Linked DNA regions of Homo sapiens: all the other regions are linked to region 2. The links come from fine-mapping of genetic effects on gene expression. A gene starts in region 2. Each other region holds a variant in brackets. All regions are shown on one strand. Distances are from middle to middle. Region 1 overlaps EMC1 (ER membrane protein complex subunit 1). Region 2 holds the start of AKR7A2 (aldo-keto reductase family 7 member A2). Region 3 holds the start of AKR7A3 (aldo-keto reductase family 7 member A3).

What was found.
Region 1: its variant is fine-mapped to the expression of AKR7A2 in monocytes after Pam3CSK4 (Quach 2016, PIP 0.94).
Region 3: its variant is fine-mapped to the expression of AKR7A2 in spleen (GTEx, PIP above 0.99). The same link has a PIP of 0.9 or more in sun-exposed skin and tibial nerve.

Annotation. Positions count from the first base shown.
Region 1 is chr1:19,238,465-19,246,464 of GRCh38, forward strand. It overlaps EMC1 (ER membrane protein complex subunit 1), which reads right to left. Exons shown (of 23, transcript NM_015047.3): 2 at 6,442-6,566; 3 at 5,486-5,551; 4 at 5,150-5,243; 5 at 3,881-4,009; 6 at 2,552-2,678; 7 at 1,833-1,982; 8 at 1,354-1,521; 9 at 767-838; 10 at 331-393. It overlaps EMC1-AS1 (EMC1 antisense RNA 1), which reads left to right. Exons shown (of 2, transcript NR_135114.1): 2 at 1,793-2,240. Among named protein-coding and RNA genes, the nearest start is that of EMC1, 9.1 kb to the right of the region's middle. The variant A/G (reference allele first, on the strand shown) is at 3,217.
Region 2 is chr1:19,308,173-19,316,412 of GRCh38, forward strand. AKR7A2 (aldo-keto reductase family 7 member A2) reads right to left here and starts at 3,972. Exons shown (of 7, transcript NM_003689.4): 1 at 3,655-3,972; 2 at 283-470; 3 at 1-90. The coding sequence starts at 3,952. It overlaps SLC66A1 (solute carrier family 66 member 1), which reads left to right and starts at 4,154. Exons shown (of 8, transcript NM_001040125.2): 1 at 4,154-4,717. RefSeq lists enhancers at 3,563-4,062, 7,277-7,776, 7,688-7,857 and silencers at 3,654-4,293, 4,374-4,463.
Region 3 is chr1:19,288,315-19,296,554 of GRCh38, forward strand. AKR7A3 (aldo-keto reductase family 7 member A3) reads right to left here and starts at 456. Exons shown (of 7, transcript NM_012067.3): 1 at 182-456. The coding sequence starts at 395. LOC124903867 (a long non-coding RNA gene) reads left to right here. Exons shown (of 3, transcript XR_007065521.1): 1 at 1-46. LOC100506730 (a long non-coding RNA gene) reads right to left here and starts at 7,422. Exons shown (of 1, transcript NR_037847.1): 1 at 4,933-7,422. RefSeq lists enhancers at 1-511, 512-1,333. The variant G/A (reference allele first, on the strand shown) is at 3,458.

The DNA of each region.
Region 1 (8,000 bases), 70 kb before region 2:
GGAACCTATGCCTCCAGCCAGGGGCTCATGCCTCTGCTACAGGGTAACTGCACAGAGTACTACTCAACTGTGCCAGCCAGGATCCCAAAAGAAATGGGGACGCTGAGGCCCAGAGGAGAAAGTGGCTAGAAACAGACTCTAGGGATTCTACCTCCTAATCTCCCGGTAAAATGAGATTAAGAGAAACATCATTTAATTTACAGTACTTAGGAAACCTCATTTGAAGCTGGGAACTCTAGGACCTGCTCCTAACCAAAGCTCTTCCCCCAACTCTCTTTGGTGGCCTCCTGCGTCTCTAGGTCTGGCATACTGCCCAGTGCCACACCATACCTTTGAACTAGACTTCTCCGAAAAGCTCCCCATTGACCCATCTTCAGAACTGCTACTTTTCTGCTATGAGAAAGAGAAGGACAGGAGAAAATTCAGCCAAAGGGTCACTTCCCAGTCACTGAAATGAAGCTTTTGTTTTTGTCTTCTTAGCACTTGAGAGAAGACAAAGCTCATTTCTCACCCCTGCCCACAAAGCCTATTCAACCCTTAATAGCCCCATATGAAAGTAAGGTCATCACATTAGGGTCTCGTTCCTGGGGAGAAATGGGGTGTGCAGAAAGCTCTATAGTTGAGGCAAGACCTCACTTCTCAACAGCCTCCTGCCCGCTGGGTTCAAACTGACCAGGTCAATGTGCCCAGACTTCTGATTTTCAGGGTTCCTAGTGGAGACCAGGAAGGAAAATCCCAAGTGCTGACTGTTGTTCTCAATACTCACCACTTCATTCCGACAGGCCATGACTGCAGCCACCGTCTTCTCCCCAGTGGTGGCAAAGCTCACTAGGGCAGTCTGGGGGAAAAGCAAGGCATCAGCTCCTAAATGGGACCAGTACTAGCCAGCTGCCTTACAGAGGGTCACCTCTCCAGGGAAGGCCCTTGGCCTTAGAGTTGAAAGTGCTCCCCACTTTGGAGCAGAATGGTCAGGCATTTAAGAGCAGAGGGAGGCCTCAGTTGCATCTACAGCTGAAAACAGAACTCTCCCTACCTCCAACGCAGGCACAGGTCAATCTTAAATCCCATGCTGCTTGTTCTTACTATCTATGGGGAAGCTCTCATTTATGTCCCCATATTTCCTTTGGACTAAGGAAGGCACTAGTTTTGCTCTAAAGATCCTTTGTAATACTCAGGAGGAAATACACCATTTCTATGATAAGGCTACCTACCCCCTCTCAAACCACTTACGGGAAGGTGTCATCAATCTTGGGCCTAAGAGCAAACGTTTCCAGATTCAAAAGCACTGCCTTCTAGCATCCATGTCTTGGAGAGATCTCCTGAATCCTAGCAAACCATGTTGCCTGCAGTTACCTGTGGGAAGTTTTTAAGCAAACTCAGCGTTCCATAATGGTACTGCAGCAGAGCATAGTGGCTTGGGGACAAGTGCAGGAAGAACTGGGCCCGGGAAGCGTCCACTGGGTTGGGCTGGGTAGGCAGGACCCGGGGTTGGAATCCACTTCCAAATTCTAAGTCGAGAGACTGGAAGGCAAGAAGGAGGAGGATTATGGCTAACAGCTGACGACTCCCTGACCCATCCCAGGCTCACAACCTCTGCCCTACTTTGCCGGGGGAAGTAACTGGGCCATGGCAGGTGGCTCCAAATGCTCCAGTTCAAGTTCCCCAAAGAGGAAAGTGACTGATTTCCTCTTACACCAGTTCAGCCAGAGGCCTGAATGGCTTCCACTGCTCAGGAAGAGTCTAGGAGAAAGACCCTCCAGGGGAATCATGCCAAACTTTCTACTCCCCGCAGGAAATGCCTCAGGCCAGAAGAAGCAGTGGCAGCCTCTCACCTGCAGTGGGATCTGTCTCAACTCCCATTCCGTCTCCAGAGCCAAAGTTTGGAGGGAACGTGAGCTCGGGTCAGGACACACCAGGACAGCCTCATCCACCACACCACAGGCTCCAGACAGGTGCTGCAGCCACGGAGTTGAAACCCTAACCTACAGAAAAGTCATCGTTAACAGGAAGCTCGTGAAAGATTTTTACATTTCCCTCTCAGCCCAACAGCAATATTGCTGCCAGCATCCCACTGGGGGTCCTAAGCTCAAAGGTTCTTCATGGTTGGTTGTATAGGAGTTCTTCCTGTCCCCTGAAACCCCACCCTCCAACCTCCTGAGAGCCTTCAAAGTTGGAAAAAATATCAGGATTTTCTTTCTGGTCACTGGAAAAATATATCCGATAATTTTAAATACCTGGCACTTCAGAATCAGCACTTCTTTACTATATTTGCCATATGTGGTGTCCTACTGTGATTTCACAGCACTGTAAGATACTTACAGGCAGAGACTAGATCTATGTAATTTTTTAGCCACCCCAGAAGATAACACATGCAAATATGAGTACTTTAAATAGAGGCCTAATGGGAAGGCAGCTGGCAAGTGACCAGAATGAGGGAGCATAAGTAGCTTTTGCATCTGCCCAGCCAAGTTCCCTGTTCCCCAGTACAAAGAAATCTATCAAGTCTCCCCCAACCCCACCTTATTCACAGGCTCCTGTCACCCTCCTGTACCTGCTGAACAATCTCTCCATCTTCCACATTAAACTTGACAATGTTCACATGGCTGAAGGGAACAACTCCGAGGGCCCACACCACCCCAGAGCCGTAAGAATACACCATCTGGTAGTGGATGCTGTCACTAAGAGAGGGAAGAAGAAACCGCAGCGTCAGCTTTCAACCCAGGACAGGATTATCCTCAGGGGCTGCCAGGCCTCAGCCAGATGTCACAAACTAGTAATTCCCAAATAGGTTTTGTTTGGCTCACACAGTTTGGGGGCTTTTGTTGTTGTTGTTCTTAATTTGAATTAGTTGTCAACATTTAGAAGATATTATACTTCACAATCAGATTTCTAAATTTTCCTACGGTTAGAAGATGTGGCAACACTAGGCCTAAATACAGAGCACCAATCAGGTGGGTAAGGCTGCCCCCTCCAGGCAGGCCAGGAGCACTGCAGCTCCCATCCAGCCAGTGTTGCTCATGGATATTTCATAACCCGCCTCATAGCATTTTCTTTGTTGTGTTTTTTTTTAGACAGCGTCTCACTCTGTCACCCAGGCTGCAGTGCAGTGGTGCGATCACGGCTCACTGCAGCCTCTACCTCCCGAGGCTCAGGTGATCCTCCCACCTCAGCCTCCCAAGTAGCTGGGATCACAAGCACGCACCACCATGCCTGGCT[A/G]ATTTTTTGTACTTTTTGTAGAGATGGGGTTGCCCAGGCTGGTCTTGAACTCCTGAGCTCAAGTGATCTACCCACCTCAGGCTCCCAAAGTGCAGGGATTACAGGCGTGAGACACCATGCCAGGCCAGAATTTGAAGTTTTGAGTCCTGCTCTAAACTTTGAAAATGGCCACAGGGTGTCTAAGTAGATCCTTTTATCTTGTTCCTTCTCTCTTGTTCCTTCCCAATTTCGATGCTTTCTACCAGCAGGACCTCGAGAAACCATTTCACACCTCACTCAGCCTACCCTGGGTCTTCTTGAGTTGTTCTAACTCTTAATATGAACGAAAGGCTCAGTCAGAACTAGAACTAGAACTAGAACTTGAACTAGAAGTCAGAAGGCACAAAGTACCATAACCATGAGCGAGTGAGTGGCTCCCGTAGCATGGCTCGCCCTAGCACCCCAGTTTGAGAGTGTTCTCCTCAGTGCAAAGGAAACTCCAGGCATACTCCGGAGTTTCACCCATACTCACAGCCTTCAAGATATTCTGAGTGCAACACACTCCATGGAACACCAACAAGAGACAGGCCTGGGTTAAAGCAAATGCTTCGGGTCCCTCGAGGAGAAAGAGGAGCTCCTAGAGAGTAGAACGAGGCAGCTATTGCCTGTGAGCAGGCAGCCTTACCTTTCTGGGAGATGTTCCACCCACTTGAGGTGCCCACTGGAGAGGTGATGGAGGGCAAGTGTAGTCTTCTTCAGGACTGCGATGTACCTTACAGACTCCTGCAGGCCAACCAGCCCAAGTGCCTGGAAACTGAACACAAGTACAGGTTGAGAGCAGCCCACACCTGCAGAGCCTCAGGCTGGGAGAGACAGTCCAGAACAGTACCCACTGTTGCTTAGTGGGTAAGAAAACAGGCTTTGGGGTCAAACACAGCTGGATCCTAACCCTGGCTCTGCCTCTTGTTAGTCAACTTGAGATTCTGCACTTGCAACCATTTGGCCACACTACTTGCTTCCCTGAAACCATCTGTATCTCCTAAGGGCTGTTCCCTCCTTCCCCTGGGACTTCACAGCAACTGGACCTACCCTCTGCCACATATCCATGAGACAGTGCTGTCATTACTGTGCTACCTGCCTGCCTCCCAATGGACAGCGGAATCCTCAATGACAGCAACTGTCTCACAGTCCCATGTGTTCTCATCGCCTGGGGCTCAGCACGTGTTTACCAAATGAATTACTATCAGAAAATGTATAAGCTAATACAAATGACCCTATCATTTGAACAACTTTAGGGGCCAGGCCCGGTGGCTCATGCCTGTAATCCCAACACTTTGAGAGGCTGAGGTGGGAGGATCACGGGGTCAGGAGTTCGAGACCAGCCTGGCCAACATGGTGAAACCCCGTCTCTACTAATAATACAAAAATTAGCCAGGCGTGGTTCACATGCCTATAATCCCAGCTACTGGAGAGGCTGAGGCACGAGAACTGCTTGAACCTGGGAGGTGAAGGTTGCAGTGAGCCAAGATCACACCACTGCACTCTAGCCTGGGTGACAGAGTGAAACTATGTCTCAAAAAACTCAATAAATAAAAATAAACAACTTTAGCAAAGATGTTAACAATAGGTCAGGCTGTTCTTTAAACAAAACTAAACAGTGGAAGTTTTATATTATGTTCTTATATCTGGAACATTGCAAAACTCACGAATCACAGTGAAATTAGGAACAGCATTCAAGCACAAGCGCAAACATTGCACCTAGAAACTCTGCATCTAACAGGCGCTCAATACATGTTGGCTGAGCAAGCATATCCACAATGGGTACTCAATGTCAATGGCTGGCTCTTCAGTGGTCCCTGGGAAAAAGCCAAAAGCCCAGAGTTGCTGTCTATGCAGATCTGTGTTCCGGTGAAGCCTTTAACTCAGTCAAGATAAAATCCAGTTTCTCCCCTACCTGCCACTGTCCAGGGTTATCTCCCAGTTCAGGCCCCCGATGTTAGTCTCCCAGGAACGCATGATTCGGCCTCCATTGGACACAGTGATCACATCTGGAAAAGAAAAGATCGTGGTGAAGTCATTTCCCACTTGCTCTGTCGCTTCCTAGGGTCCCACTGTGAGCAGTGGCCTCACCTCTGATTTCTGGATGCAAATACATGTTAAACAGGTACCTGTCCTTCACTGTCAGGAGTCCCCAGTCTCCTTTCCCTACCAGACCCTGTACAGATCAAGGAGCCAAGGAATGGGACAGGGAGCTGGCCGCACAATGGAGACACGGGAGGACTCTGCTTACCCTGTCCGTGCAGCAGCATGGCATCCACAGCCCCTTCTGCCGTGCCCTTGTCAACATGGCGCCACACTGAGAGACATGAAAGTTAGACATTACTATGAACAAAAGGTGGCAACCCAGAAGACTAAGAAATAAATGAAGAGCTCTTCATTTGCACAGCAATGTCCAATTTTATCTCGAGGGAGTGAAGGAGTATAGCTAACTGGCAGTGATCCAGTCCCATTCACGGGGTAATGAGGGTAGAAGGGGTTAAGAGGGGCCACTACTGTCCAGGCCCCACTACCACCCCATCAAACATATAAACAAACAACAATAAGATTAATAAAATCCATCCAATTCACAAGAAAAATAGTGATCATAAATTCTATTTCCCTTATTTTAGTGCCTAAAAACATCCGGCCAGTGTAGGTAATTAAGTGAGGGTATCTGAGAGTTTACTGCAAAGTAGAATAATGTGTTTTTTGCAGCAGCATCTTTTTTTTTGAGACAAGGTGTTGCTCTATTGCCCAGGCTGGAGTGAACTGGCATGATCACAGCTCACTGCAGCCTCAACCTGCTGGGCTCAAGCAATCCTCCCACCTCAGTCTCCCAAGTAGCTGGGAATCTAGGCACACGCCACCATGCCTGATTTTTTTAATTTTAGACATGGGGCCTCACTGTGATCCCCAGGCTGGTCTCGAACTCCTGAGCTCAAGTGATCCTCCCGCCTGGGCTTGCAGCAATATCTTATTTAAGGACACTCAGGATTCAAGCTGAGAGAACAAACCGCAAAGGTCAGTTATAGGAACATACAAATATTCAAAGATGGTAAGACTGAAAAAAAAAAAGTATCAGAATCCACTAGGAGAGGCATCTTTTGGCCAACATGTTCCTTATTCAGGAATCAGCCAGGCAGAGTTGGCAATGGTAAGTCTTTCATCCCTGAGGCAGCCAGTAGACACAGTTCTCAGTTCACTCACAGATCTCCCCAGTTCGGGAATTTAATGCTGCAATCACATTCTTCTCTGTGGCTACAACCAACTTCTTGGATCCAGGGGAAAATTCCAAGGAGGCAAACTTGACCTTCCCAACATATTGCTGTCTCCTGAGAAAAAAAGAGTACAGGGGACCATAAGGAGCTAAAATCACCATTCCACAAAATGCTCCGGAAAAAAAATCACAGGGCTATCACCATCACATTCATTTTAGGACACATAAGACGTGTTTGTTAGCTGGGCGCAGTGGCTCACACCTGTAATCCCAACACTTTGGGAGGCCGAGGCAGGCAGATCACCTGAGGTCAGGAGTTCGAGACCAACCTGATCAACATGGAGAAACCCCGTCTGTCTCTATGAAAAATACAAAATTAGCTGGGCATGGTGGCGCATGCCTGTAATCCCAGCTACTCGGGAGGCTGAGGCAGGAGAATTGCTGGAACCCGGGAGGCGGAGGTTGCAGTGAGCTGAGATCGCACCATTGCACTTCAGCCTGGGCAACAAGAGCAAAACTCCATCTCAAAAAAAAGAAGTGTTTGTTAGTGAAGAGCTCTGACCAAAAGCAAGATTTCCATTCAATGTAGTCAGATGCAAAGAGAGTAAGAGAAGAAAATTAGCTCCTAATAGATAATACTAACTCTTCCTTCTAAATGGAAGCACATATTTACCTTCAGATAAGTGACACCCAAAAGGGCACCTTACCTTTCTTTTTTTTTTTTTTGAGACGAAGTCTCACTCTTGTCCCCCAGGCTGGAGTGCAATGGTGCAATCTCAGCTCACTGCAACCTCCACCTCCCAGGTTCAAGCGATTCTCCTATCTCAGCCTCCCGAGTAGCTGGGATTACAGGCACCTGCCACCACGCCCGGCTAATTTTTTTGTATTTTTAGTAGACATGGGGTTTCACCATGTTGGCCAGGCTGGTCTCGAACTCCTGACCTCAACTGACCCACCCGCCTCGGCCTTCCAAAGTGTTGGGATTACAGGCGTGAGTCACCACGCCCGACTGAGATCACAGCACTTCTTAACAGCACAGAGCAAGCACCTCCTTTGTACTTGGTAGCCTACCATGTGAGGCTAATAATTTTCTCGATTAGGATCGCTTGAGCCCAGGAGGTCGAGGCTGCAGTGAGCCGAGATCACACCATTGCACTCCAACCTGACAAGACTCTGTCTCAAAAAAATAAACAGGCCAGGCGCAGTGGCTCACGCCTATAATCCCAGCACTTTGGGAGGCCAAGGTGGGTGGATCATTTAAGATCAGGAGTTCGAGACCAGCTGGCCAACTTGGTGAGAACCCATCTCTACTAAAAATGCAAAAATTAGCTGGGCGTGGTGGCACGTGCCTGTCATCCCAACTACTCGGGAGGCTGAGGCAAAAGAATCGCTTGAACTCAGGAAGCAGAGGTTGCAGTGATCCAAGATCGTGTCACTGAACTCCATCCTGGGCGACAGAGTGGGCCTCTGTCTCAAATAAATAAGTAAATAAAATACTGTTGTTTTATCTGGATATAAAAGTAATGCCTCCTTATTACAGAAAATGAGT
Region 2 (8,240 bases):
CAGGATCCAGCCATTGCTCTTGCAGAGGGTACAGATCTCGGCCACTTCCCAGCTAGCATAGTTGGAGAGGCCAAGCTCCACGAACTTGCCCTGCATGGGTGAGGCTCCAGTCAGAACGCAGTGTAGCCCAGACCAGGAAGGGGAGGCCAGGGTGGGGCCCCAGGGAATGGGGCTATTCCCTGCCCCACCCTGGGACTGCCCTGGTGCCTCTGCTCTCATGAGTAGGATCAGGATAAAGAAAGGAGCAGGAGCCCACCTTTGGAGCTCGGAGGGCCCCCTCACCTCCTGGTGCAGCCGCTGGCAGGCATGCAGCGTCTCTTCCACCGGGGTGCCGTGGTCAGGTGCGTGTAGGTAGAAGAGGTCCACTTGGGGACACTGCAGCCTCTTCAATGACGTCTCCAGCTGGGACCGGACACTGTCAGGCTTTAGTGATTTTCCATCCCAAGGGTTGGCCTTGGTGGCAATTTTCACTTGGAGAGAGAATGGAATGGTTAAGTGACCTATTAGAGCCATTTGCTAACCATGTAACCCTGGCTAAATTACTAATATTCTCTTGGCCTCAATTGTATGATCTGTAAAATGGGGTGATAATAATCAAACTGTCCTCATTGGGAGGTCCTGGGGATTAAATAATGTCATATATGTGAGTTCTCAATGTTCACCTATTAGAATAACTATCATTAGTCACCAACCTGCTGGCTGTGCCAGGCCTTGCACTAGAGACTGAGTATGCAGAGATGAACTGAACACAATGGATCTCTGCCCTCCTGGAGCCCTAGAGGATGATGGTACAATATGGTAAGCACAGGAGGGAAAGGCACACGATGCCAAGGAGCCCAGATGAGATGCATGAAGCCAACTTGGAGACTCCAGGGAAGGCTTTCTCTAGGGGATCACTCCCAGAGTCCCAGCCAACAAGGAAGAGCAGGAAGTACACTCCAGAGCATGGGAACCCATGCAAAGTCAAAGAGGCAAAAAAACACTATGTGAGGCTCCAAACCTTCAAGTCTAAGTTATAAGAGCATAAATTCTAGAGCAAGGAGCAGTGGGACGTAGGACAAGAGACAGGGACAGACCTCATCCCAAAAGTTCTTAAATACCATCCCACTGAATCTGAACTTGATCATTCCAGATTTTGTCAGGGTGTGAACCGGTCACCTGTGTTCACACTTGGCTGCAGTATAGAGAAAGAAGTCAAGGGGGCAGGCCTGGAAGAGTTTAGGAAAGCGAAGCAGCCACATAAATGTGGCCCAGTGGTAGAGATCAACTTGAGAGCTTAGAAGGCAAACTGAGCAGAATGTAATTATAATTCTCCCCTCCCCTTCCTGACTCACAGAAGCATGAGCATATATCCAAACACTGTAGGGACACATCGCTATGACAACAGTGTTCTGCATCCGAGCAGCTTGGAAATGAGTTAATTCTGCACTATTCTTTCCCCTATAAAGAACCCCAGCTGTTGGTCCAGATGTAGTGGCTCAAGTCTGTAAACCTAGTTTGGGAGTACTTTGGGAGGCTGAGTAGGGAGAATTACTTGAGCCCAAGAGTTTGAGATAATCCTGGACAATGTAGCAAGACCCTCCCTCTACAAAAATAAAAATTAAAAAAGAACCCCAGCTGGGCCAGGAAAGGTAGCTCACGCCTGTAATCCCAGCACTTTCGGAGGCTGAAGTGGGTGGATCACCTGAGGTCAGGAGTTCGAGACCAGCCTTGGCCAACATGGTGAAACTCTGTCTCTACTAAAAATACAAAAATTAGCCAGGCGTGGTGGCACGTGCCTGTAACCCCAGCTACTTAGGAGGCTGAGGCAGGAGAATCACTTGAACCTGGGAGGCAGAGGTTGCAGTGAGTCCAGATTGTGCTACTGCACTCCAGCCTGGGCGACAGAGTGAGACTCTGTGTCAAAAAACAAAAAACAAAACAAAAAAAAAGAACCCCAGCTGTCTGGATTGGTTGGGGGATGGATTCTGCACTTTTCATACTTAGCAAAGTCAGCTCAGTAGCTCAGAAGGGTGTCACGAGATCAGTTGGGATATGGGACAGAACAAGTTCCACAGTTTCTCATCCAGATTTTCTCCATTTCCCCACAACGCCCCAGGCATTCTTGGCATGAACTGTGCCTCAGGCCTGGCCTGAGGACTTTGGTTCAGTGAGCTCCTGGCCCCAAAGACGGAAGCGGGGAAGGGTTAGAGAAGAAAAACCAACTCAGGAACAAAATCTTCATTATTAATAGTATGTAACGTGGCCGGGCGTGGTGGCTTACACCTATAATCCCAGCACTTTGGGAGGCTGAGGTGGGCAGATCACTTGAGGTCAGGAGTTGAAGACCAGCCTGGCCAATATGGTGAAACCCCATCTCTACTAAAAATACAAAAATTAGCTGGGCGTGGCCGTGTGCACCTGTAATCCCAGTTACTTGGGAGGCTGAGGCAGAGGTTGCAGTGAGCTGAGATCGTGCCATTGCACTCCACCCTGGGTGACAGAGCAAGATTCCGTCTCAAATAATAATAATAACAAAAACAACAACATGCAGCCAGGTGAACTAGAAACAGCGTGGGCCTGAGATTCACATTTGCCCTCTTTTCCCCCCGACCCCCCAAGCGCTATGACTCAGGAGGACCCAGAGAGAACCTCTCCTCAGGGGTGGGGAGCAACAGCCTCAGGATAGTCCAGTGGGTGAAGCATGGTAAGGGTAACAGCCCACGTTCCCTGGGCCCTCACTGAGTGCCAGGCACCCTCCCAAGGGCTATCAAGGGCACCAGGCTCACGAGGGACAGTCCCCTCCATCCTCCACTCAAGCCCCACCTGCCCAGTGGCCTTCCTTTCACACATCACGCACATTGCATTTCCAAACCAAGTCTTTGCACAGACTCTAATGTTCCTTTCTCTTGTTCTCCTCCAACCTACCATTGAGCCTTTAAGGCTGAGCTCCATCCAGCATTTGCTGAGCCTTCCCTAGTGCCTCTCCCCGGCCTGCAGCTCCCTAAAGTACTCTCTCTTCTGGGCTCTCCAGCAATCATTACTTCAATCTTCCTCATTAGACTCTGAACTCCCTGTGGAGGGCTGGAATCACTTTCCCTCCTATGGCCCCAAGTCAAAGCCTGGCATAGAGTGGATAGAAAGTCCCTACACCCTGACCCGTCCGCACTCCCTAACACTCCTACTCTCCCAGCCAGCCTTACGGCATCGCCACAGTTCTCCCTGAGAGAGGCAGAGGTACTGCCAGCTGCACAGGTCAAATTCTAGTGGTTAAGAAAAGGCCAGGATGAGAAAAGGGTGCCCAGGGTGTGCATGCGTGATGATGGTAACGAAGGGGTAGAGAAAAGGGGGAGAGCCTGGGTGGGGACCGGTTGTGGGCACCTGGCAGGTTTGGAGGCGGGGGCATCAATGGAGGTGGGAAGCGATGGGTCAGACCAGGCTGGGGGGAGACTCTCGCGCTGCAACTCCCAAGGGAAGGAGAGTGGGGGAAAGGAGTCAGGGCAAAGCACTGTCTAGTTGTCCCGGGGTTCCCAGAGCTGCGGGGTGGACCTGGGGTGGGGAGCGAGGGACGAATCCGTCGGTGCTGCCCGCGGCCGGGCCCGAGCGGGGTGGTGCACGGCTGGGGACAGGCTCAGCTCTACACGATGCATGGGGAGGATCTGCAGCTACTGTTACCTCTGCAGTCGCCACCGCCCAGCCCGAGCCCCAGGCCGCCCAGGATGGTCTCGGACTGGCCGTCGCTGTACATGAAGGCCGTGTCCAGTTCGGTGTGGCCGCGCTCCAGAAAGGCGCGCACGGCCGCGGCGCTGGCGGGCGCGTCCATGCGGCGCCCCATCTCCATGGTGCCCAGCACCGAGGCGACCCGCGGTGGCGGTGGCCGGGACATGGCGAGCGCGCGGGCCTCGGGCGGCGGAGAGCGAAGCGCGCAGTGGACGGCGGCGCGGGAGACTACGCGAGACGCGGCACTCAGCATAGCAGCGGCGCCTGCGCGTTGGGAGCCGGGGGCCCCGCCCATGCCGGGGAGGAGCGCGGAGGCAGTTGGGGGCGGGGACAACAGGCGCGGCCCCAGCGGCGCCTCCAGGCCCGGTCAGCCCAGCGCGCGGCGTGGGGGCGGGGCCTGCGGTTCCCGCGGGGGCGGTGGCGCGCGGTCAGCTGACCCGGCGGGCCTTGACCCAGAAGCTGGGCCCTGGCGGCGGATCTGGACGTGGTGAGCCGGACCGGGGGCAGGTGGCAAACTTCACGGCTGGGGGTCGGGGCTCCTGGGCTTCCCTGCCACATCCTTCCAGCCCTCTCCTCCGGCCGCTGGACTGTCCCGGCTCCTGCGCCCTCCTTGTGGCGCGATATCGTGGGACGAGGCTCCGGGCCGGGACTGGGTGGCCCTCGGGAATCCGCAGCCAGTGGCCCCCCACCTCAAAGGCGACCAGCGCGGCCTCTCGAGCTGGCCTGGCCAGGAGTTGCCCTGCCCCGGCCGACCGGCCCCTTGGCATCTGATGGCTTCGTTTTTCCCGGGCCGGCCGGGCGAGGGGCCCTCGCGGCGCTGGCCCCAGCAGCTGTCCTATCATTATCCCTCCAAACAGGCGGCCCGCGCCGGGCTGAGTCACCAGGAGGGAGCTGTGGCCGAGGACGCCGAGGCCTGGAGTGGGTGGTAGCCCCGAGCTGGGACGCTCCTCCCTCCACAATCTCCCCAGGTCTGCAGGGACCGAGGGCCTACACTGCCTCCTCCCACGCCGTGCTTAGGGTAGGTTTCCAAACGTGTAAATGGAGAGTCTGAGTCTGGAAGTGTGAGGGGTCCCGGGCCTGGGTCACAGGTCATGTCTAATCAACGCTTACTGAAGGCGCCTGTGTGCCCGGACGCTGGAGGGGCTACAATGAGAACAAATAATAGTCATTTTGGGCTGTTGGTGTTGAGTGCCAGTGCCAGGCACCCTTGTAATCGCTTGGCCTGGATTGTCTCATTTAACTCTGCAGTCAGCCTAGGTGGTGGGTATTGCATTATTCCCCTACTTTTCAGATGAGAACTACGAAGCTCAATCACTTGAGTTCCAGACTGGTAGGCATCGGGCAGGTCTGTTCCAGAGTGCTTTTCTCCTCAACCCTGGGCTGTTCGAGCTCACAGCTTTCTCCCCTTCCTTTCTCCTTTCCTTCCTCTTCTCTCTCTTCCACCCTTTCTCCTTTCTCACCCGTTTCCTCTCTTCTTCACTCTGTCCTTCTCTCTACCTCTCTCTTTCTCTCACTGTCTCTCAACATTTGCTGAACCTCTAGGTGTGTTTACACCTGGAGAATAAGAAATGCACAACCCAGGGTGGGGAGAGTACGTTTCAAAGACAGTGGTCGCAGAGGACGGTGGTAGCGTTCTTCAGGTGTGTGGACAAGGGGAGAGGAGGAGGTGGAAGGTCCTGTCCAGCCAGCTCTCATGGGGCATCTTTGAAAGGGCAATTTAGAAGTGAGTCTTCTTATCTCATGACCAGGCCCTTGAAGGGGAGCAGGACACTTCTAGGGGAAGAGATGGCACGTGCAGAAGCCTGGAGACCTGAAATGACTGAAGACGTGGGTCAGGAGGCAGGAGATAAGGTTGGGAGGGCAGTTCTTGGAGTAACTTGAGGCCTAGCCTCAGGTAATTTGGACTTCATCCTGTAGACAAAGGTGGACACATGATTGGCTGTGATCATGTGCCCGAAGCACCCTGACTCAGCTTGGGATCAGGGAGAGGAGTTTGGGTGTGGCAGGAGATGTCATCTCCAGCCCAACCTTTCTCAAAGTGCACTAGATGGAGCAGAATCGCTGGAGGGCTTCTTAAACCCAGAATCTCTAAGCCCCAGCCCAGGTGCACTGACTCCAAATTTTGAACATGCACCCTCCAAGGGTGATTCCAGGGTACCGCTTCTGGGGTCCTTCCCATCCCTGCAGGTGAGGTCAAGCTCCATTGCAACCTTGGACATCCATTTGCTCAGAGCTGTTTGAACAGGATGTGGGCCCATGCCTGGCTTCTAGGTGACAGGAACTACGCAGGATGGCCCTCAGAGCCAGGCCTTTCTGTTCAGGGATCAGGTGTGTCTCAGAGTGTCCCGAGCTCCACATTGCACATGGGTCCTGTCCAAGGTCAGGGGGACACCCACCCAGTATCCTGGATCCATAAACCAAGGTACCTTCCTCAAGACAACTCCCCAACACGCACGCATACTGGGGTGCATCCATTTCATTTCCTCCTTAACCTAGGGAAAGGGGGAAGTGAGAGAGAGGCCGCAGGGGCCATAAACCAAGGTACCTTCCTCGAGACAACCCCCCAACACACACATGCTGAGATGTGTCCATTTCATTTCCTCCCTAACCTGGGGAAAGGGGGAAATGAGAGGGAGAGTCCCCAAGGTGGTTGAGATGCTGGACTCTCATCCTGAAAACAGTCGCTGCCATGTGTTGTCAGGCACAGGGCTGAGAGCTTTATGTGCATTTAGTCAGGGCAGCTGCCCCAAGGAGTGAGTGTCGTTAGCCCCATTTTATGGACAGGCTCAGGCAGGTTAATTCACTTCCAGGGCTGCTCAGCCTCACCTGTCAAATGAGCACAGTATACCCAACCTTGCTGGGGAGTGGTGAGGATGGCAGTGGATGAGCTGCAGCCTTGTGTTCAGACTCTGCAAGGGGGTGTGGGGGTGCACCCCAGTTGGCAGTGGTGGCTGAGAACATGAGGACTTGATTTGAAATGCCTTTGGCCTTGCAAACGTGTAGTTCTCACCTGGACTATATGGTTTTTTTTTTGTTTGTTTGTGTTTTGTTTTGTTTTTGAGAGTCTTGCTCTGTCACCCAGTTGGAGTGCAATGGCGCGATCTCAGCTCACTGCAACCTCTGCCTCCTGGGTTCAAGTGATTCTCCTGCCTCAGCCTCCTGAGTAGCTGGGATTACAGGCACGCACCCACCACGCCTGGCTAATTTTTGTATTTTTGATAGAGATGGTGTTTCACCATGTTGGCCAGGCTGTTCTCCAGCTCCTGAGCTCAAGTGATCCAACTGCCTTGGCCTCCCAAAGTGCTGGGATTACAGGTGTGAACCACTGCGCCCGGCCACACCTGGACTATATGTTAATTTGGAGTGGCCTTTCAGGGGCCGGAGATGGAGCATCAGGTGAAGGCTTCCAACATCATCTGTGCTGATGGTCCCCCAGGTGGGCCACGAAGACACAGGGAAGAGGCTTTCAGCCTCCCTGCCTGTGCCAGGCCCTGGAGGTAGTCCAGTGAGCTGGGCTGACAGTGACCTGGGGCACCCTTACCTTTAGGTCCAGGGTCTCTGCCCACAGCGAGTCACATTAGGGCTGAGGGTCTACGGCTTCCTGAGAGGAGGTGCTGACTCACTTCCTTTCCCTCCCGGTGCTCCCTGGTCTCTGTGTCCTCAGCAGTTCCGTGGGGCCAGCCAGGGACTAGCTGGGGAGCCCAGGCCTCCTGACACAAGTGGGAATGAAGGCAGCTAGAGACAGCCCCCACCTGGATGAGGAAATCCCCTCTGAGCACAGGGAAAAAAGAGGAAGCCCACTTTCTGGCTGTGCAGTCATGCCAGACCACAGAGGCTTCTCTGTCTCTCTCTCTCCCTCCCTCTCTCCCTCTCTCTCTCTCGAGCCACAGAAGTCTTCTGCTTCGCTGGTGACAGATGGACCTGAGGCGGGTGGTGTGGCAGGTGGCTATGAGCAGGGGTGTAGGTCTGAGTCTTGGGTTTGACTCTGTAGTTTCCTGGCTGGGTGGCGCTGGCACATCACTTCCGCACTCTGGCTCAGGCTCCTTGTGGATATCAGTGGTCCCCACTTCATAGTTGCTGGGAAGATGCAACATGAGTGCATGCAGGATGCTTGGCTCACCGGTCCGAGCTGTGGTGATGATCACTGATGGAGATGGCCCAGCCGAGCCTCACTTTCCCTCCCTCCTCTAAGGTGTCACGCAGGCAATGACTGCTCTACTCACTGTCCAGGGTGCCCGGGTAGCGGGAGAGGCCTGCCCTGCCCACCCCTGCGATCAGCCATATTCTGGCTTTGTCATTGTGACGGTGGGGAGGTGGCTGTGGACTCCCTGCTGTTAGGCATCCCCCCCACACTCTGTGAGCTCCTGGGAGAATACAGGCTGCATCGTCCCAAACTTGAGTCCTTGTCATTCATGCAACCCCGGGGATCCCTTGCTCCTCTTCTCCACTTGCCTCATCTGTGTGGGGCAACTCTTTATGGTTTGTGTGTGTGTGTGTGTGTGTGTGTGTGTGTGTGTGTGTGTTTTCTTTTAAGACAGGGT
Region 3 (8,240 bases), 20 kb before region 2:
CGGAGCTAGACGTGCCTAAGGAGCCTGGTGTTCCCAAGGCTGCGAGGTGAACAGGGGTGGGGGCGGTGGGGGGGACAAAACTTTGGGTGCTGCCCCGGGGCCAGGGAGAGCGGGGCGGTACACGGCTGTGGACAGGCTCAGCTCTGCACCGTGCAGGGGGAGGATCAGGGGCCACTGTTACCTCTGCAGTCGCTGCCGCCCAGCCGGAGCCCCAGGCCGCCAAGGATGGTCTCGGACTGGCCCTCGCTGTACACGAAGGCCGTGTCTATCTCGGTGTGGCCGCGCTCCAGGAAGGCGCGCGTGACTGCGGCGCTGGTGGGCGCGTCCATGCGGCGCCCCATCTCCATGGCGCCCAGCACCGTGGCTGGCCGGGCCCGCGACAGCTGCCGGGACATGACGGCGGCAACGGGAGACTGTGACAGCCCAGGAGCCGCGCGCAGCGGTCGGAAGCACCAGGCTCGGAGCGGGCGGCCTCGTGGCTTTAGAGACGGGCTCGGGCCCCGCCCACCGGCGGGTGCAGCTGAGGGCGCGGCCGAAGGTGCCCGACGCCGCCCACGAGCTCGACTCCACGCTCGGCTACTAGGACCTTCTGCACTTGCACCGAGCAAGCAGCGAAATGGCTGTGGCTTCGTACCGGTGACTCGCGTCTTGGAGATTTTAACACTCCTCAACGTCCCCAAGGGTGAGGGGGTCCAAGGGTGGCGACTATCCCAAAAGGCGGGGACTCTTCGGGCCTCCCTGCCCCGTCGTCCCTCCTTCCTCGGCCTTGCCCCGGAGCTGTCCTGGGTTTCTGTCTCCTCCCGGAGGGAGCGCTTACGGGGTGGGGTGGACCTAGGGCTGTCGCGCCTGCCGTGTGGTCCTGGAGAATGAGGCTTACCAAAGGCTCAAGACAGCGTCCCCATGGAGTGACATGGTTAAAGTGTTGAAAGAAAAGAACTGTTGGCATTGAATTCTGTACCTAAGTGAAAAAAAACTGACTGGCTCTGGTGACTTAACGCCTGTAATGCCAACACTTTGAGAGATCAAGGCAGGAGGATCACTTGAGCCCAGGAGTTTGAACCCAGCCTGGGCAACATAGGGAGGCCCTGTCTCAAAAGAAAAAAAAAAAGATAGAAAAATGGACCAGTGCCCAGCGGCAGTGAGCTGTGATAGCTCTACTGCACTCCACCCTGGGTGACAGAGGGCAAATCTGTCTCCAAATACAAAAGAAAAAAAAAGACCAATAGACAGATGGAACAAATGAAAAACCAATAGCAAAATTGATTTAAACCCAATCATATCAATAATTACATAAATATAAATGATGTAAATGCTCACAAGTAAAAGGCAGTGATTGTTAGAATGGATAAAAAAGCAAAACCAAACTATATGGTAAATACCAGAAAGCTATTCAAATATAAAAGCAGAGATAGTTTAAGAGCAAAAAGATGGGAAAAGACATACACTGACAAAACTAAATTTTAAGAAGTTGGAATGGCTAAGTGAATATCAGACAAAGTAGATTGCAAAACAAAGAATACTGGCCCACACAGTGGGTGACATACTAGCCCACACCTGTAATGTTAGCACTTTGGGAGCCTGAGAAGGGAGGATTGCTTAAGTCCAGGAGTTTGAGACTAGCCTGGGCAACACAGGGAGATCTTATCGCTACAACAAAATTTTAAAAATTATCAAATTGTGGTAGCATGCACCTGTGGTCCCAGTTACTTGGGAGGCAGAGGTGGGAGAATCATCTACGCCTGGGAGGTCGAAGCTGCAGATTGAGACCCTGTCTCAAAACAGCAACAACAACAACAACTACCAAAGACAAAGAGGGACATACCATAATGACAAAGAGGTCAATTAATAAAGAAGATATAATTCTAAATATATATGCACCTAAGCATAGATCATCAAAATACATGAAAAACAATAATGGAACTAAAGAACAAGTAGATAAATACAAAATTATAATTGGAGATTTCAACACACCATTCTCAATAGTTGTAGAACAGTTATCAGTCATAATTTACGGAAACTCCGTAAAGGTATACAAGACTCAATGCTATGAACCAATTCCACATAAACAACATGAATAGAATATCCAACAACAGCAGGATATGCATTCTTTTCAAGTGCCCATCCACCAAGATATACCATATTTGGAGGCATAAAACAAGTCTTAATAAATGTAAAAGAGGCTGGGAGCGGTGGTTCACGCCTGTAATCCCAGCACTTTGGGAGGCCAAGGCATGTGGATTAACTGAGGTCAGGAGTTTGAGACCAGCCTGGCCAACACAGTGAAACCCCGTCTCCACTAAAAATACAAAAATTAGCTAGGCGTGGTGGCGTGCCCCTGTAATCTCAGCTACTCAGGAGGCTGAGGCAGGAGAATCACTTAAACCTGGTTGGTGGAGAGTGCAGTAAGCCGAGATCAGGCCATTGCACTCTAGCTTGGGCAACAGAGTGAGACTCCATATTAAAAATAAATAAATAAATAAATAAATAAATTTGAAAGGATTCCAATCATACAAAGTACATCTCTGAACACGATGGAATTAAACTAGAAAATAATAACACAGGCTGGGTGCGGTGGCTCACACCTTTAATCCCAGCACTTTGGGAGGCCAAGGTGGGCAGATCACTTGAGGTCAGAAGTTCAAGACCAGCCTGTCCAATATGGTGAAACCCCATCTCTACTAAAAATACAAAAAAATTAGCCGAGCATTGTGGTGTGTGCCTGTAATCCCAGCTACTCAGGAGGCTGAGGCAGGAGAATTGCTTAAACCTGGGAGGCGGAGGTTGCAGTGAGCCAAGATCGCACCACTGCACTCCAGCCTGGGTGACAGAGAAAGACTCTACCTCAAAAAAAAAAAAAAAAGAAAGAAAGAAAAAAAGAAAAGAAAAGAAAAGAATAACAGAATTTAGAGCCTGAGAGGGAACTGAAAATAAGTAAATAAGTTAACAAATAGAAGAAAAAGGAAAAATAGAAAATAATAATGGAATGATATCTGGAAAATCCCCACATATTTAGAAATTAAATAACCCATGGGTCAAATATGTAATCACAAGGAAAATTAGATCATATTTTGAACTGAATGAAAGTAAAAACAGGACATATCAAATTTTCTGAGATGCAGCCACAGTAGTGCTATGAGGGAAATTTATAGCACCACTTTGACATATTACAAAAGAAGAAATATTTCAGATCAATAATGTAAGCATTTACTTTTTTTTTTTTTTTTTTTTGAGACACAGTCTCACTCTGTCACACAGGCTGGAGAGCAGTGGTGCAATCTCAGCTCCCTGCAACCTCAGCCTCCTGGGTTCAATCAATTCTCATGTCCCAGTTTCCTGAGTAGTTGGAATTACAGGCATGCACCACCATGCCCGGCTAATTTTTGTATTTTTAGTAGAGAAGGGGTCTCACCATGTTTGCCAGGCTGGTCTTGAACTCCTGGCTTCAAGGGATCCTCTC[G/A]CCTCAGCCTCCCAAAGTGCTGGGATTACAGGTGTGAGCCACTGCACCGGCCGAGGCTTGTACTTTAAGAAACCACAAAAGGAAGAGTCAAGTAAAACCAAAATTAGCAGAAGAAAGGAAATAATAAAAATAATAGCCAAAATAGGCTGATGTGGGAGAATCGTTTGAACCCGGGAGGCAGAAGCTGCAGTGAGCCAAGATCACTCCTCTGCACGCCAGCCTGGGAAACAGAGCAAGACTCCATCTCAAAGAAAAAAAAAAGCCAAAATAAATGAAATATAAAACAAAAACATCAGCAAAAGTCAGTAAAACCAGAAGTAGTTCTATAAACACATCGCTAAAGTTGATAAACCTCTGGCTAGACTGATCAGGAATAAAAGAGAGAATACACAGATTAACCACACCAGAAAGAGCAGAAGAGACACCACTACAAATTATACAAATTTATCATTTTAAGTGATATTTAAATGTCATTAAATGACATTAAATGACATTTTAAATGACAATAGGGTAGATTATTAAAACCTTTATGTGAATACATTTAGTAAGTTAGATGAAATGGACAATTTCCTTGAAAAACACAAACTACCAAAGTTTATGTTTGGAAAATGAGTAAGGAATGTGTTTGGAAAATGAGTAAGGAAAAATGAGACAGCCGGGCGCAGTGGCTCATGCCTGTAATCCCAGCACTTTGGGAGGCCGAGGCAGGCAGATCACTTGAGGTCAGGAATTGGAGACCAGCCTGGTCAACATGCTGAGACCCCATCTCCACTAAAAATCCAAAAATTAGCTGGGTGTGGTGGTGTGTGCCTATAATCAGTTACTTGGAAGGCTGAGGCAAGGAGAAACGTTTGAACCCAGGAGGCAGAGGTTCCAGTGAGCCAAGATCATACCACTGCACTCCAGCCTGGGCGACAGAGCCAGGCCCCGTCTAAAAAAATAAAAAAAACAACAACCTGAATTTTTTTTTTTTCTTAAGACAGGGTCTTGCTTTGTCTTCTGAGTTCAATGGTGCAATCATAGCTCACTGCAGCCTCAACGTCCTGGGCTCAAGCGATCCTTCTGCCCAAGCCTCCCAAGTAGCTGGGACTACAGGTGCACCTCAATACACCTGGCTAATTTTGTAAAAATATTTTTGTAGAGACAGGGTCTCGCTATATTGCTCAGGCTGGTTTCAAACTCCTGGGTTCAAGTATTCTTCCTGCCTCACCCTCCCAAAGTGCTGGAATTACAAGTGTGAGCCATCTCGTCTAGCCCAGATATTGAATTCTTGATAAAAAAAAATATTTCCACAAAGAAAACTCCAGGTCTACATGGCTTCATTGGACACTTAAGGAAGAAACAACATCAATTCTGGACAAATGTTTCTAGTATATAGAAGAGGAGAGGTCACTTACCAACTCATCTTGAAGCTAGCATTACCAGATACCAAATGACACAAAGATGTTACAAGAAAAGAAACTACACACATATCCTTCATGGATCTAGACACAAAATCCTCTTTATTTTTTTCAAAAATCCTTTTAAAATTTAGCAAAATGAATACAGTAGTAAATACAAACAATAATGCACCATGACCAAGTTAGTTTCATCCCAGGAATACAAGGTTGGCTTAATATTTTAAAATCAATCAATATAATTTACTATACTAACAGGCTATAAGACAAAACCCATATCACCATCTCAATAGATGCAGAAAAAGCATTTGACAAAATTTAATACCTATTCATGAAAGGAAAATAAACCTCTCAGCCAATTAGGAATAGAAGGGAATTCCTGAAACTGATAAAGGGCATCCATAGGCCAGGAGCAGTAGCTCATGCCTATAATCCCAGACTTTGGGAGGACAAGATGGGCGGATTGCTTGAGCCTAGGAGTTCAAGACCAGTGTGGGCAACATAGCAAGACCCTTCTCTACAAAAAATAAAATAATTTTTAAAGGGCATACACAAAACACCTACAGCTAATATACTTAATGATGAAATCAGAAAGTTTTGCCCTAAGATTGGGAACCAATGATGTCCACTCTTATTCAACATTGTATTGAAGATACCAGTTATTTCAATATATTTCTTTGTTGTTGTTGTTTGTTTTTTTTTGGGGGGGGGGGTGGGGGACAGGGTCTTGCTCTGTCACCCAGGCTGTAGTGCAGTGGCATGGTCTTGGCTCACTGCAGCCTTGACCTCCTCCTGAGCTCAAGAGATCCTCCTACTTCAGCCTCTGGAGTAGCTGGGACTACAGGTGCACACCACCACAGCTGGATAATTTTCTGAGTGCCAGTAGTGGCAACAACTCAATCACTAATATTCAGTGTTGATGGAGCAAGCTGGGTGTGGTGGCACGTGCCTGTAGTCCCAGCTACTCAGGAGGCTGAGGCAGGAGAATCACTTGAACCAGGGAGGCAGAGGCTGCAGTGAGTTGAGATTGCACCACTGCATTCCAGCCTGGACAACAGAGCGAGACTCTGTCTCAAAAAAAATAAATAAATAAAAATAAAAATAAAAATTTTTACCCTTTTGACAGCATGTCAGGCTTCTGGGTTCTGTTCCCCGAGCTCAACCCTAAGCCAAGCATTTTAAGGTTTGAGGAAATTAACTTCTCCCAGTTTGGAGGAACATTATAGAAGAAGAGATAGGAGCCATTTTAAATCATGAATGAAGGAAGGAAAAATACCATAGAAAAGTCTGGGGGTTTGGGTGGTAGAATTGGAGAAGCTGACAATGTGAAAGGGAGGGAGGAAGGGCCAGGGCATCTGGAAGTTTCATTTGAGGGGTTCCTGGGAGTTTGTTTCTCTAGTTTTGGGGAATCATTCCCTTTGGGCCTGTCTGATATGACTGCTGAAAGAGCTGAGTCCATTGTGCAATGCTTGCAAAGGTCTAGTAAGAAGGCCATGCTCTTGTGCAAAAGAAAATGAGCTGTTTTTTCTTCCAAATCTCAGAGTCAAAGGAGTCCCAGTGCTTCAGAACGCACTCCAGAGGAGGGGAAGGGGAAGACAGTGAGGGCGCCACCCCTACTGTTTTCCCTCCTTGGTTCCTGGGTCCCAGCATCTTGTTAAACATGCCTCCCATGGTTGCAGGTGTGACCCCCAGCCATGGAACCAGAGGAACTAAGTGATTGGGGTTAGTCATGCTTACCCATGTGACTCTAGTCCTGCACTTATGATTTCCTTTTGACTTCCAAGACTTGTGTGACCTGTGTGGCTCCCTGAAAAATGGATCTTGGGAGAGACTATGTAACAGTTGCATTTAGGCAACTGTTGTATTTCCCTCCATAATGGAGGAAGTGTGCTGGTTTGAGCTCTATATCCTGCTATTATGACTCGTGCTAAAGTACCCTTAGAGAATGGTTCCAGTTAACTTCCGGACTTAAATTACCCTTACTATTTAAGTACTATTTTAATTACAAGCAGAATAGGTGCCTTAAAAAAAACATAGGAACCAAATGGCTATTTTCCTGCTGATGGGACAGTATTGAGACTAAAATTTGGTTTTGGAGGACATTTTCCTCCTTATTGTTGAAGACAGAGTTTTCCCATTTATGGAAGTAGCATAAAGCCTGGTGTCCAGCAGAGGGGTGCAAAAAGGGAGGAGAATTGGGAAGCCAGAGTGTTTTGGCAAAGGGCTGACAATGTGCCTCATGGAGAGGATTCCTATGCCACTGGGTAGGGCCGTTGACCTTTAAATGCCATGTGCTCTCCAGACCAAGGGCAGAGAGAGACCTCACTATGGGGAGAGGAGGGGAAGACCCACTGTTCCTAGAAAATCACAAAAATGGCATTGCCTTGAGCTCTACCTCAGTTACTACGGTATTTCCTGATCTTGCCTAACAGGATTACTTCCTTGAACTGTAAAAATTCCCACTGCTTCAGAATGTTCTCCCCAGCAAGCCTGTCCCCCAAGTCTTGTAAGGCTGCCAGCCACACTAATCATTTTTAAATAGCTGAAGGGGGCCCAGTATTTGATTTGATTTTAAAATGGAGGCCAAGAACCTTGAAATGAAAGGACATGGTTGAGGTCCACTCCTGTCCTCACTGTTCTGATGATGATACCTTGATCCCACCTGGGGCCCCAAAATGAAGCAGTGTCGTTCATCTGGGGTAAGACCCAAGGATCATTGCCTCATGCCAAGGAATGAAGCAGTGTCGTTCATCTGGGGTAATACCCAAGGTTCACTGCGTCATGCCAAGGAAGTCAAGGACACGAACACATGTGAAGTGAGGTTAAGAGCAGAGGTTTAATAGGCAAAAGAAAAAGAGAATAGCTCTCTCTCCTGCAGAGAGAGGGGCACCTGAGTGGGTCTTCCAGCCTGCAGCAGCATGCACAAGGACAGGCATGAGGAGGCAGTGTCTGATTTACATAGGGCTCAAAGATTGGTTGAAACAGGTGCGATGTTTACATAGTACAGGAAGAAGCTCCCCGCCCCACCCTAATCTATTTTGCAAATGGATTTTTTTTTTTTTTTTTTTTTTTTTTTTTTTGAGATGGAGGTTCACTCCTATTTCCCAGGCTGGAGTGCAGTGGTGTGATCTCGGCTCACTGCAACCTCCACCTCCCAAGTTCAACAGATTCTCCTGCCTCAGCCTCCTGAGTAGCTGGGATTACAGACGCCTGCCACTACACCCAGCTAATTTTTGTATTTTTAGTAGAGACACCATTTCAACGTGTTGGCCAGGCTGGTCTTGAACTTCTGACCTCAGGTGATCTGCCCGCCTCAGCCTCCCAAAGTGTTGGGATTATAGGCGTGTGCCACCGCACCTGGCCACAAATGGCTTCTCTACCTGGCT